Homo sapiens: one gene and its partners. The protein of the gene in region 3 purifies or fractionates together with the protein of the main gene of each other region. This does not show direct contact. Each region holds a gene or a part of one and is shown on either strand. Other genes may lie near its edges.

Region 1 (3,500 bases), on a different chromosome or scaffold from region 3:
ATTACAAAGATTAAACTATAACTGAATTTCATACCCTAATGGGTCAAGTCCCTGGTCTAGGAGCATTAGAGAGGACTCTCTGAGCTTCTGCAGCAACTTCCTTAGCTCTTCCTTAGAAAATACCTGATTTTTAAAAAGAGAAATAAGAATGAGAACAAAGACAAGTAGACAAGTATGAACTTAGTTACCTAATCGATCTGATTAGCTTCATATAAGAAGAAATGCCTCTTTAAGATTTATGTAGCCAGAGCCTAGTAAATTAGAGTGGTTCAGGAATTTCAAGGTGAATTCTCAGAGTCAGTCTATATATTTCTAACTGCTTACAAATATACACACATTTTGGGAAAAAAGTACAAACATTAAAACATTAAAACTGGACTATTACTTTAAGAAAATCCAAGAGCAATTACAAATGTAAACACATCTTCACAAAATTAATATTACTACAGAGCATATCAAATCATTAAAATTTAAAACTACAAGGCTCTAGAACTTACCAGGTACAGTTTGTGGCGCTCAGAGGATACCATATCTGCTAACTGTAGGCATTCCTGATACTGACCAGTACTGTGCAATATCGTATGAAGCAGAAAACACAACATTGGCAGACAAAGCTTTCTCAGTAAGACCATTTGATGTGTTCTTTCATGGTCTTCTTTGGCATCCTACAAACAGACATCAATAAATCATTTTAACAATTTAAGCTAAAGATCCTTACAAAAAGAAAAGCCAGGTACTGAATCAAACCCAGAATGTAATTGGTAGACAAGATTTAACAGCAAAAAAGTATGAAGATGAACAACGTAGACTACAGAGAGGTATGACAGTGAAAATAAAATGCTTCTGCATTTGTATTTCTAATAAACTTACTATGTCCTGAATAAAAACATGCATAAAAAGAATGAGTTGGAAACTGAATATCATTAGAGCAAAAATCAGAACAGAAAACAATCACCACTCCTTTGGATGTTTATACATATAAATAAAGATAGCTCTAAGGAGGCCTGAGAGGACACAACAGACTGACAGCAATGACTGTTGCTGGGAAAAAGACGATGTGGGGAGGGGCACACAGGGAGGGTCAACTTCATTGCAGACTACTTTGCTTATACACATGGAAAATGGAATTTATAATTTCTTTATATAATTTTTAAAAACAGAAAAACAGAACCTATAGATTTGAATAATACAATTAATGAGTCAGAACAGATATATAAGGAAAACAAGCAGAAAAAACAATTGGCATTCCTTTATACATACATGGATCTTTCTTAAAATCGATGTGAACAGTAAAAGTACAGAAAAAAGAGTAAACCTCTTATGCCCACTACATTTACTTACAAAAAATTTGAAAATTAAAATAATTAGAAAGTAACCAACCACATAATTTCTTTTTTTTTTCTTTTCTTTTTTAACCTTTTTCTTCTTTTCTGAGACAGCATCTCACTCTGTCGCCCAGTCTGGAATGCAGTGGTACAATCATGGCTCTCTGAAGCCTTGATCTCCGGGCTCAAGCAATCCTCCTACCTCAGCCTCCCAAGTAGCTAAGAACCACAGGCATGTGCCACCATGCCCGGCTAATTTTTCTATTTAAAAAAAAAAATAATTTTATTATTTGTAGAGATGAGGTCTCCCTATGTTGCCCAAGCTAGTATCGAACTCTTGGGCTCAAGTGATCCTCCTGCCTCAGCCTCCCAAAGTGCTGGGATTACAGAAATTACACACTACAATTTCTGAAATAATCTTAAAAATAGGAAGGAAATCAATAGCACTAATAGTGTAGAAAAAAAAAACAGGACAAGCTAAAATAATAACTGCTCCTTTGAAAAGCCTAATGGAATACCTAAAAGTATCTTCATGTGAGAGGCTATATTAAATTGCTAAAACATTTTTCAAATGGACATGTAAGTGGAGGGGTTAATCAACAACAAAGTATAATCTGGTAATTATACCAAGGAGTAATTGTACTAATTTGGGCTAATCTAGGTCAGGTTTCCAAACATAGGAAAAATTACTATCAATATTTTGGTCTTGTTTGAAGCATAAATACATAAAAGCAAATATTAAAGTGCTTCTTTACAAGGGAAGCACCTTTATTTCTTTTCTCAAATAGATACTTGCTACCTTCAGAGGTGGATTTAAAATGCTTCAAGGTTTTACTTGTAATTCATATTAGTGATCCCAACCTAGAACCCAGTAAGAATAAGAGAACTGCTTCTTTCTGGACCTTTCCATTTGTGCTCCAATGTAGTCTTTCTGTCTATGTTAAAGAGGCCGGGTGCCCCTGGCTTCTGACTCCTTGTTGCCCGAAAAGCAGCAGGTTACTTTCTTATCTCACAGGATGGACCCAGACTTGCTTTTACTAAATCCTTTTGCTGCCATAATATCAGAGTGTGCTGCAGACAATCTCTTCTGCTAATTATAATGAATTCCGATACTAGCGGGCGGGCTGCCAGCAACTATCCAGGGTAATGGCTGACAGACCCAGCAAATTGCTACAAGGAAAAGCAAATAAACAGCTCTGCTACAACTGAAGACATTTTTCTCATCTGAATGAACAAAAGCTTTGAAATAGCCGGTAAATATGTAAAACAGACGGATTATTTCCACTAGGGATATTTCCACTTTTTTTTTTTTTTTTGAGACGGAGTCTCGCTCTGTCGCCCAGGCTGGAGTGCAGTGGCGCGATCTCAGCTCACTGCAAGCTCCGCCTGCCGGGTTCACGCGATTCTCCTGCCTCAGCCTCCCGAGTAGCTGGGACTACAGGTGCCCGCCACCACACCCGGCTAATTTTTTGTATTTTTAGTAGAGATGGGGTTTTACTGTGTTAGCCAGGATGGTCTCGATCTCCTGACCTCGTGATCTGCCCACCTCAGCCTCCCAAAGTGCTGGGATTACAGGCGTGAGCCACCGCGCCCCCCCATGTAGTGCCTTACATGTGAGAAAAACTCATTACCTAATATGTGTTGATAGCAAGAGTTGATTGGAACTGATATTACAGCTATTCCTAATCTGAAGACAGTACATTCACCTCAGTAATGCAGTATCATTCATTTACTAAGTACCACTGAAAGCCTCCCATGTGCTCAGCATTATTTTAAGTGCCAGAGTCAAAGAAATAAAGAAAACAAGGTTACTCCCTTCATGAAGGTTATATTCTAATGAGGGTAGACATACAAAAAGCAAATAAATTAATATGTTTTATATCAGATTGTGCTAAGTGCTATGAAGAAAACTAATGTAGGATATGGAGATTAAAAGGGACAGGTGTGTGTGTGTGTATACACATGCATACATGCTATTTTAAATAGGGTGGTTGGGTTGGGGAGAGGTTCTTGAAAGAGATGACATTTGAGCAGCTGCTGAAAGAAGTACAAAGTCATCCATGCACCTATCTTGGCGAAGGAGCATTCTAGGCAGAGGGGAACCAATGAAGAGGCCCAGAATGCCAGGATATAGTGATGGGAGAGCAGTAGGACACAAGATTAGGGGGTTAGTTT
Region 2 (3,500 bases), on a different chromosome or scaffold from region 3:
AAAACCCCTCGTGGCTTGGATGGAATCCAGGACTCGTGGCTCTGGAATGTGTCTAGACTTGCTGGCTCCTTGCTCCTTGCTCTCCCAGGATCGATTGTATCTTGAGTTAAAAGAACCTGCTCTCGGCCGGGCGCGGTGGCTCACGCCTGTAATCCCAGCACTTTGGGAGGCCGAGGCGGGCGGATCACGAGGTCAGGAGATCGAGACCATCCTGGCTAACACGGTGAAACCCCGTCTCTACTAAAAATACAAAAAATTAGCCGGGCGTGGTGGTGGGCGCCTGTAATCCCAGCTACTCGGGAGGCTGAGGCAGGAGAATGGCATGAACCCAAGAGGCGGAGCTTGCAGTGAGCCGGGATAGCGCCACTGCAGTCCAGCTTGGGCGAAAGAGTGAGACTCCGTCTCAAAAAAAAAAAAAAAAAAAAAAAAAAAAGAACCTGCTCTCCATTATCTCAAGTAGCAGAGCAGATGCTAAATCATCACACCTGTAAATCATGTGCTTAATGCAACGCGACCTTTCGACCCCCACATTCTCACCACCTGTTTCTTTGTTTGATCACCAATAAATAGTCTGGGCTTCCAGAGCTCAGGGCCTTCACAGCCTCCATACTTAGCGATGGCCCCCTGGACCCACTTTCGCTCTCAAACTGTCTTTTCTCATTCCTTCGACTCCACCAGACTTCGTCACCCCCACGACCTGGTGTTGGGTCTGATCACCCCAGCAAAAATTAAATAGAAGAGTAAAACATAAGCCCCTCTTAGAAATAAAACAAAACAAAGAAATCTTTGCAACTTTGAGTTTGGCAGAGTTCCTACATGACACCAAAATGATGACCCATTTTTTTAGAAATTCATACATTGGCCTTCATCAAGATTAAAAACTTTTGCTCTGCAAAAGACACTGTTAAGAGAATGAAAATACTGAGAAAAAATATGTGCAAAACACAAAGACATAAGCAAAAGTTTTGAACAGATAATTCACCAAGAAGACATATGAATGGCAAACACACACACACACACAAAGATGTTCAACATCACTAGGAAAATTAAAATTAAAACCACACTGAGATATCACAACACACTTGCTAGAATAGCTAAGATTAAAAACCACTAACACTGCTGAGTGCAGGTGGGGCCACGGCATCCCTGGAGCTCTCCCACACTGCTGAGTGACAGTGGGGCCACGGCATCCCTGGAGCTCTCCCACACTGCTGAATGCCCGCGGGGCCACGGCATCCCTGGGGCTCTCGCACACTGCTGAGTGCCAGCGGGGCCACGGCATCCCTGCAGCTCTCCCACACTGCTGAGTGCCCGCGGGGCCACGGCATCCCCGGAGCTCTCGCACACTGCTGAGTGTCAGGGGGCCACGGCATCCCTGGAGCTCTCCCACACTGCTGAGTGCCGGGGGGCCACGGCATCCCTGGAGCTCTCCCACACTGCTGTGTGCGGGTGGAGCCATGGCATCCCTGGAGCTCTCCCACACTGCTGAGTGGGGGTGGAGCCATGGCATCCCTGGAGCTCTCCCACACTGCTGTGTGCGGGTGGAGCCATGGCATCCCTGGAGCTCTCCCACACTGCTGGTGCAGCGGCAAAGCAGCCACAGCCATACTGGAAAAGAGTCTGGCAACTTCTGAAAACAATGAGCATGCACCTGCCCTGAGGCCCAACAACCCCACTTGCAGGTGTTTATTCTAGAAAACTAACTTAAGTTCACATAAAAAACCTGTCCATGAATGTTCATAGCAGCATTATCCATAACTGCCAAAAACGGAAGCACTCCAAATGTCCCTCAGTGGTAAAATGGATAAACTGGTTCATCATACAATGGAACACTACTCTGCAATGAAAAGGTGAACTATTGATATGGCACTGTAAATGCATCTCAAACGCGTTATACTAAGTGAAAGAAACAAGTCTCAAAACTTTTGACTGAACACTGTATGACTGCATTTACGTGAAATTCTAGAAGCGGAGACATACACAGACACAGGATGGTGGCGGCCAGCACAAAGGCAAAATGGTAGCACAGAGGAAATCACTGTGAACCTAAACACTGAGAATTTTTTTAAATGGGCTAAATAGCAGAATGGAGATACTAAAGGACAATTTAAATGCAAGCTAGAAAATCAAACACAACAAAAGAACAGTTAGAAATTATGAAGAAAAAATAGTAAAATTTTTCTATCATTAAAAAAAAGTCAGCCCTGCGTGGTGGCTCACACCTGTAATTGCAACACTTTCAGGGGCTGAGGTGGATCACTTGAGCCCAGGAGTTTGCGACCAGCCTGGACAATACAGCAAGATCCTTCTCAAAAAAAAAATTCTAAGTCTGTCACTAGCTTTGAAAAAAATAATAAATTTTAAAAAAAGGAAAAGTCCTCAGATTGAAGGATCATCAAGTGTTAATCCAGGTAAATTTTTAAGTTCCACACCTAGACACATTATTGCAAAATTTCAGAACATGCAGGATTTTTTAAAATTCTAAAAGCTACCAGACACATCTTCAAAGGAGTAAGAAATGGATTAACATCAGACTTCTCATCAATAATGAAAGAATACCTTCAAAGTGGGCAGAGGAAAAACACTTCAGACCAGAATATCTATATCTGACTGATGATCCAAGAGTTCAGGAATAGAAGCGTAAGAGAAATAAAGACATTTTCAGACTATTAAGTAATTATTTAGATCAGCAAATCCTGTTGATTCTATTTCTAAAAGCATATCCCAAATATGATCACTCCACAGCTACCATCCCATTACAGGAAGTCTCCTGAGGAGCTGCTCACTTGCTTCCACCTTTGCCCCCTTAGAGTGAATTATCCACCCAGCAGTCAAAGTGATCCTCTTAAAATATAAATATTATCATCACTCTGCTCACACACCCATCACACTCACAACAGAACCCAACCTCCTGGCCCCAGCCCAGGGAGCCGGCCCCTTGCTCCCCACATTGCACTCCTGCTATTCCTGGAACACACCAAGCTCACCTCCAGCTCGGCACCCAGCTCTCTCTTCTCCACATCCTCTAAGGACTCACACCCCCCCATCTTTCTGTCCCTATTCTAGCTAAAGCAGACACAAGCGCACTGTGTCAGCAAGGATCCAGTGAATGCCTGCATAGTGGGGAAAGGAACAAAATGAAATCTAAAATGTTTTGTGGGGTCACAGGGTCGGGGTAGTTTTTTTCTCCTTATATTTTTCCACTTTCTGAATTTTTACACTGCGTATATATTAATTTTACAAATATTAAAAGTATCATTGAAAAGTTTCCTTTAAAAGTTGTGTCACTATTTAAGAATTTTTTTTTTCCCAGACAAGGTCTCACTCTGTCGCCCAGGCTGGAGTGCAGTGGTAAGATCTCGGCTCCCTGCAACCTCTGCCTCCTGGGCTCAAGTGATTCCCCCACCTCAGCCTCCCAAGTAGCTGGGACTACAGGTATGTGTCACCACATCCAGCTAATTTTTATATTTTCTGTACAGACAGGGTCTTACCATGTTGCC
Region 3 (3,500 bases):
CGGGTGGATCACGAGATCAGGAGATCGAGACCATCCTGGCTAACACTACTAAAAAAAATACAAAGAAATTATCCGGGCGTGGTGGCGGGCGCCTGTAGTCCCAGCTACTCGGGAGACTGAGGCAGGAGAATGGTGTGAACCTGGGAGGCAGAGCTTGCAGTGATCCAAGATTGTGCCACTGTATTCCAGCCCGGGGGGCCAAATAATAATAATAATAAATAAAGTAGATGACTTGTTGTACTGATACAGTTTGAGCCCAGGAGAATGACTCTCCCCATAACAATTGATCATTTGTCCTAAAAATGATTTGTAGCTATAGGGGATCCTCCTCTCCCCTCGTCACTCAGAAAATTTTTAATTGGATCTTCGATTTTGGTAGTATAACTTAATTTCTTCACAGTGTTAGAAAAGTGTGGTTAGACCTATGTTTTGCATGGAGGAGAATGAAATGACAGAATGTGTGATATTTTAGCCAACTTTTTTTAAGTTCATTTTATTAAGGTTTTATTAAAAAGTTAAAATGAAAAACATTTTATTGGCAGGGAGTGGCAGGAAGTCATTCACATAACTTATACACTCCTCAGGACCTGGAGGAATATAGTAACCACCAAAAGTGAGAGTTATTTTGTTAGAGCTTAGCAAACATCTCAGTAATTCTGATTTTTGTCATCTTTACCTATTTTTCATTTCTGTACCTACTAATTTTAACTTTTTTCTGTTAAACTAAAAATACCTGCAACAACATGGCCAAAAAAACCCCATCTCTACAAAAAGTACAAAAATTAGCCAGACCTGGTGGCATAGGCTTGTGGTCCCAGCTACTTGGGAGGCTGAGGCAGGAGGATCACTTGAGCCTGAGAGTTTGAGGCTGCAGTGAGCCATGATCGTGTGCCCCTGCACTCCAGCCTGGGCAACAGAGCAAGACCACGTCTCAAAACAAAAACAATACATGCCTACTTACTGAAAACTCTAAAATAGAAGTATATAATCCAGCCATCGAAAGAATCACCATTCACGTTTTCCTGTATATCGTTCCAGATACATATGTATGGTTGGTATTTAAAAACCTGCAGTTTATGTACGTGCATATATTCTGCTTTTGTCCCCCTACTTATGTCATGAGCATTTTCAGTTTTTTTTTTGTTTGTTTTTTTTTTTTGAGATGGAGTTTGGCTGTTGTTACCCAGGCTGGAGTGCAATGGTGTGATCTTGGCTCACTGCAACCTCCGCCTCCTGAGTTCAAACAATTCTCCTGCCTCAGCCTCCCCAGTAGCTGGGATTACAGGTGCTTGCCACCACGCCTGGGTCATTTTTTTGTATTTTTAGTAGAGACAGGGTTTCGCCATGTTGGCCAAGCTAGTCTCAAACGCCTGACCTCAGATAATCCACCCGCCTTGGCCTCCCAAAGTGCTGGGATTATAGGCATGAGCCACTGTGCCCAGCCTTCAGTTAATCTTAAATATTCTTCAAAATCCAACCAGCCTGGGCAACTTAGTGGGACCCCATCTCTACAAAAGAAAAATTTTTAATGATTTGGGCATGTGGTGGCTGCACCTGTAGTCCCAGCTACTTGGGAGGCTGAGGTGTGAGGATGGCTTGAGCCCGGGAGGTTGAGGTTGCAGTGAGCCATCACACCACTGTGCTCCAGCCCAGGTGACAGATTGAGATCCTGTCACCTCCCCACCCCCATCCCCCCAAAAAATATATATATGTATATGTATATATATTTCAAAATCTTAAACGTAATATTTCTTTTTTTTTCATATTGGCATTTCATCTCACAAATGTGCCACAGATTGTTTAAACCCTCTTCTGTTGGGTATTTGAATTGCTTTCAGATTTTTTAATATTAAAAATAGGCACCTGCTAGAATGAGATGATGGGATTGGAAGGGATAAGAAACTTGGGATTGAGATCTCTCATTTCTGCCACTTACTAGCTGGGCAGAAAATCATTTAACCTTTATGAGCCTTGTTTCCTCCTCCTAGAATGAATGTGGTAGTGCATACCTTACAGGGGTTCTTATGAGTATTCACTCCTTTAACAAAGCAATGACCACTCTAGGACATAGCTTCCTGTCTTCCTCTGCCCTTTATACTGTTACCATACTTTCTGTCCCTTGTGCCTATTTATATTCTAAACTTCGTTTTTACATAGGGATGCAGGTGCCGAGAAGACTGGGTATAGGTATACTATATGATTGGAAGGCTAGAGGTGGTCCTTTATTTTATTGAAACATAGCGAAGAAATTATCTTAGAATTTTGTGTTTTACTAAATGAATATGAAACTTCACATTTCATACAGCAGATATTAAGAAGGGCCTGCTATATACCTAAGGCCATACTAGATACATGACATTCATATATCGTTTGATTCCCACTTCAACCCAGTAAAGTGTAGGTACTTTTACTTCCTTCTGTCCTCATTGAGGAAACTGAAGTTCATTGAGACTGTGCACTCACATCACCCAGGGAATAAGTAAGATGTGTTGTTCTAGAGCTACTACTGCTACTACTGGCTGGTAAGAGCCAATTGTTAAATATCCAAGAACTTGTAACCCAGCCATGGTTTGCATTGGCCACAGGAGGCACATTTATACCTTAGAAATCAGCAAATGCTGCAAATCAGAGCTCTCTTTGAATTTCCAGAGTCATTTGCTAGGACACAGTTGGGTTTGAACCTAGGCCTTTTGAACTCCTTAATCCTCAAAACAAGAGATGGGTAAAGAATTGACATACACTCAAGAAAGTCTCATCTGTGCTATAATAGAAGCACATGGAAAAAATGGTGGAGGCTATTTTTGCATGTGATAGTATATTTTTGTATTTCCTTATATATTTGAAATGGAGTAGGAAAGCTTAGGTGAAGATTACGAAAAGTGAAATAAATCGTTTTTTCAGGTAGCCTAGAAGAGAGTTATAGAATGTATAATTTTCGTAGAAATACTTTTGTTCATCTGTTTCTTGAAGCCAAGAGAGAGACCACCAGTAGACCTAGCCATTGCCATTTCTGCCATTTACAAGCTGGGAGCAGAGATTATATATTTCTGATATCTGATATCAACTCTATTTTTCTTTTTTTTAAGAATCATATGCTTATATATACACCTACTGTGTACCCACAAAAAACATTTTTATATATACACCTACTGTGTACCCACAGAAAACATTTTTATATATACACCTACTGTGTACCCACAAAAAACATTTTTATATATACACCTACTGTGTACCCACAAAAAACATTTTTTTAAAGAATCATGCTCGAAAAGCAGAATTTGATAGAACTCTTGACTATCCCAGTAGCTGAAGTAACATGAACTGTGATTTTATTTCAAGGGTTTGTAAATGATATTCTTGAAATAACAAATGCAAACATCTGTAGAGCACTTACCACCTACCCTGCCACACATTGTTCTGCTTCTTTCATCCTCAGAACAACTTTGAGATAGATGCTACTATTAACCCTATTTTATAGAAACTGATGCACAGACAGGTTT

The links. The genes of interacting proteins can lie anywhere in the genome.
Region 1: the proteins of AHCTF1 (region 3) and NUP107 purify together in Homo sapiens (affinity purification with western blotting, with the first as the bait; one study listed by BioGRID). This does not show direct contact.
Region 2: the proteins of AHCTF1 (region 3) and TUBGCP3 purify together in Homo sapiens (affinity purification with western blotting, with the first as the bait; one study listed by BioGRID). This does not show direct contact.

Annotation. Positions count from the first base shown.
Region 1 is NC_000012.12:68,738,978-68,742,477, reverse strand, and holds part of NUP107 (nuclear pore complex protein Nup107), read right to left. Parts: intron 666-3,500; coding exon 498-665; intron 124-497; coding exon 16-123; 3' UTR 1-15. UniProt on the Homo sapiens protein: Plays a role in the nuclear pore complex (NPC) assembly and/or maintenance. Required for the assembly of peripheral proteins into the NPC. May anchor NUP62 to the NPC. Involved in nephrogenesis.
Region 2 is NC_000013.11:112,578,154-112,581,653, forward strand, and holds part of TUBGCP3 (gamma-tubulin complex component 3), read right to left. Parts: intron 1-3,500. UniProt on the Homo sapiens protein: Component of the gamma-tubulin ring complex (gTuRC) which mediates microtubule nucleation.
Region 3 is NC_000001.11:246,844,949-246,848,448, reverse strand, and holds part of AHCTF1 (protein ELYS), read left to right. Parts: intron 1-3,500. UniProt on the Homo sapiens protein: Required for the assembly of a functional nuclear pore complex (NPC) on the surface of chromosomes as nuclei form at the end of mitosis. May initiate NPC assembly by binding to chromatin and recruiting the Nup107-160 subcomplex of the NPC.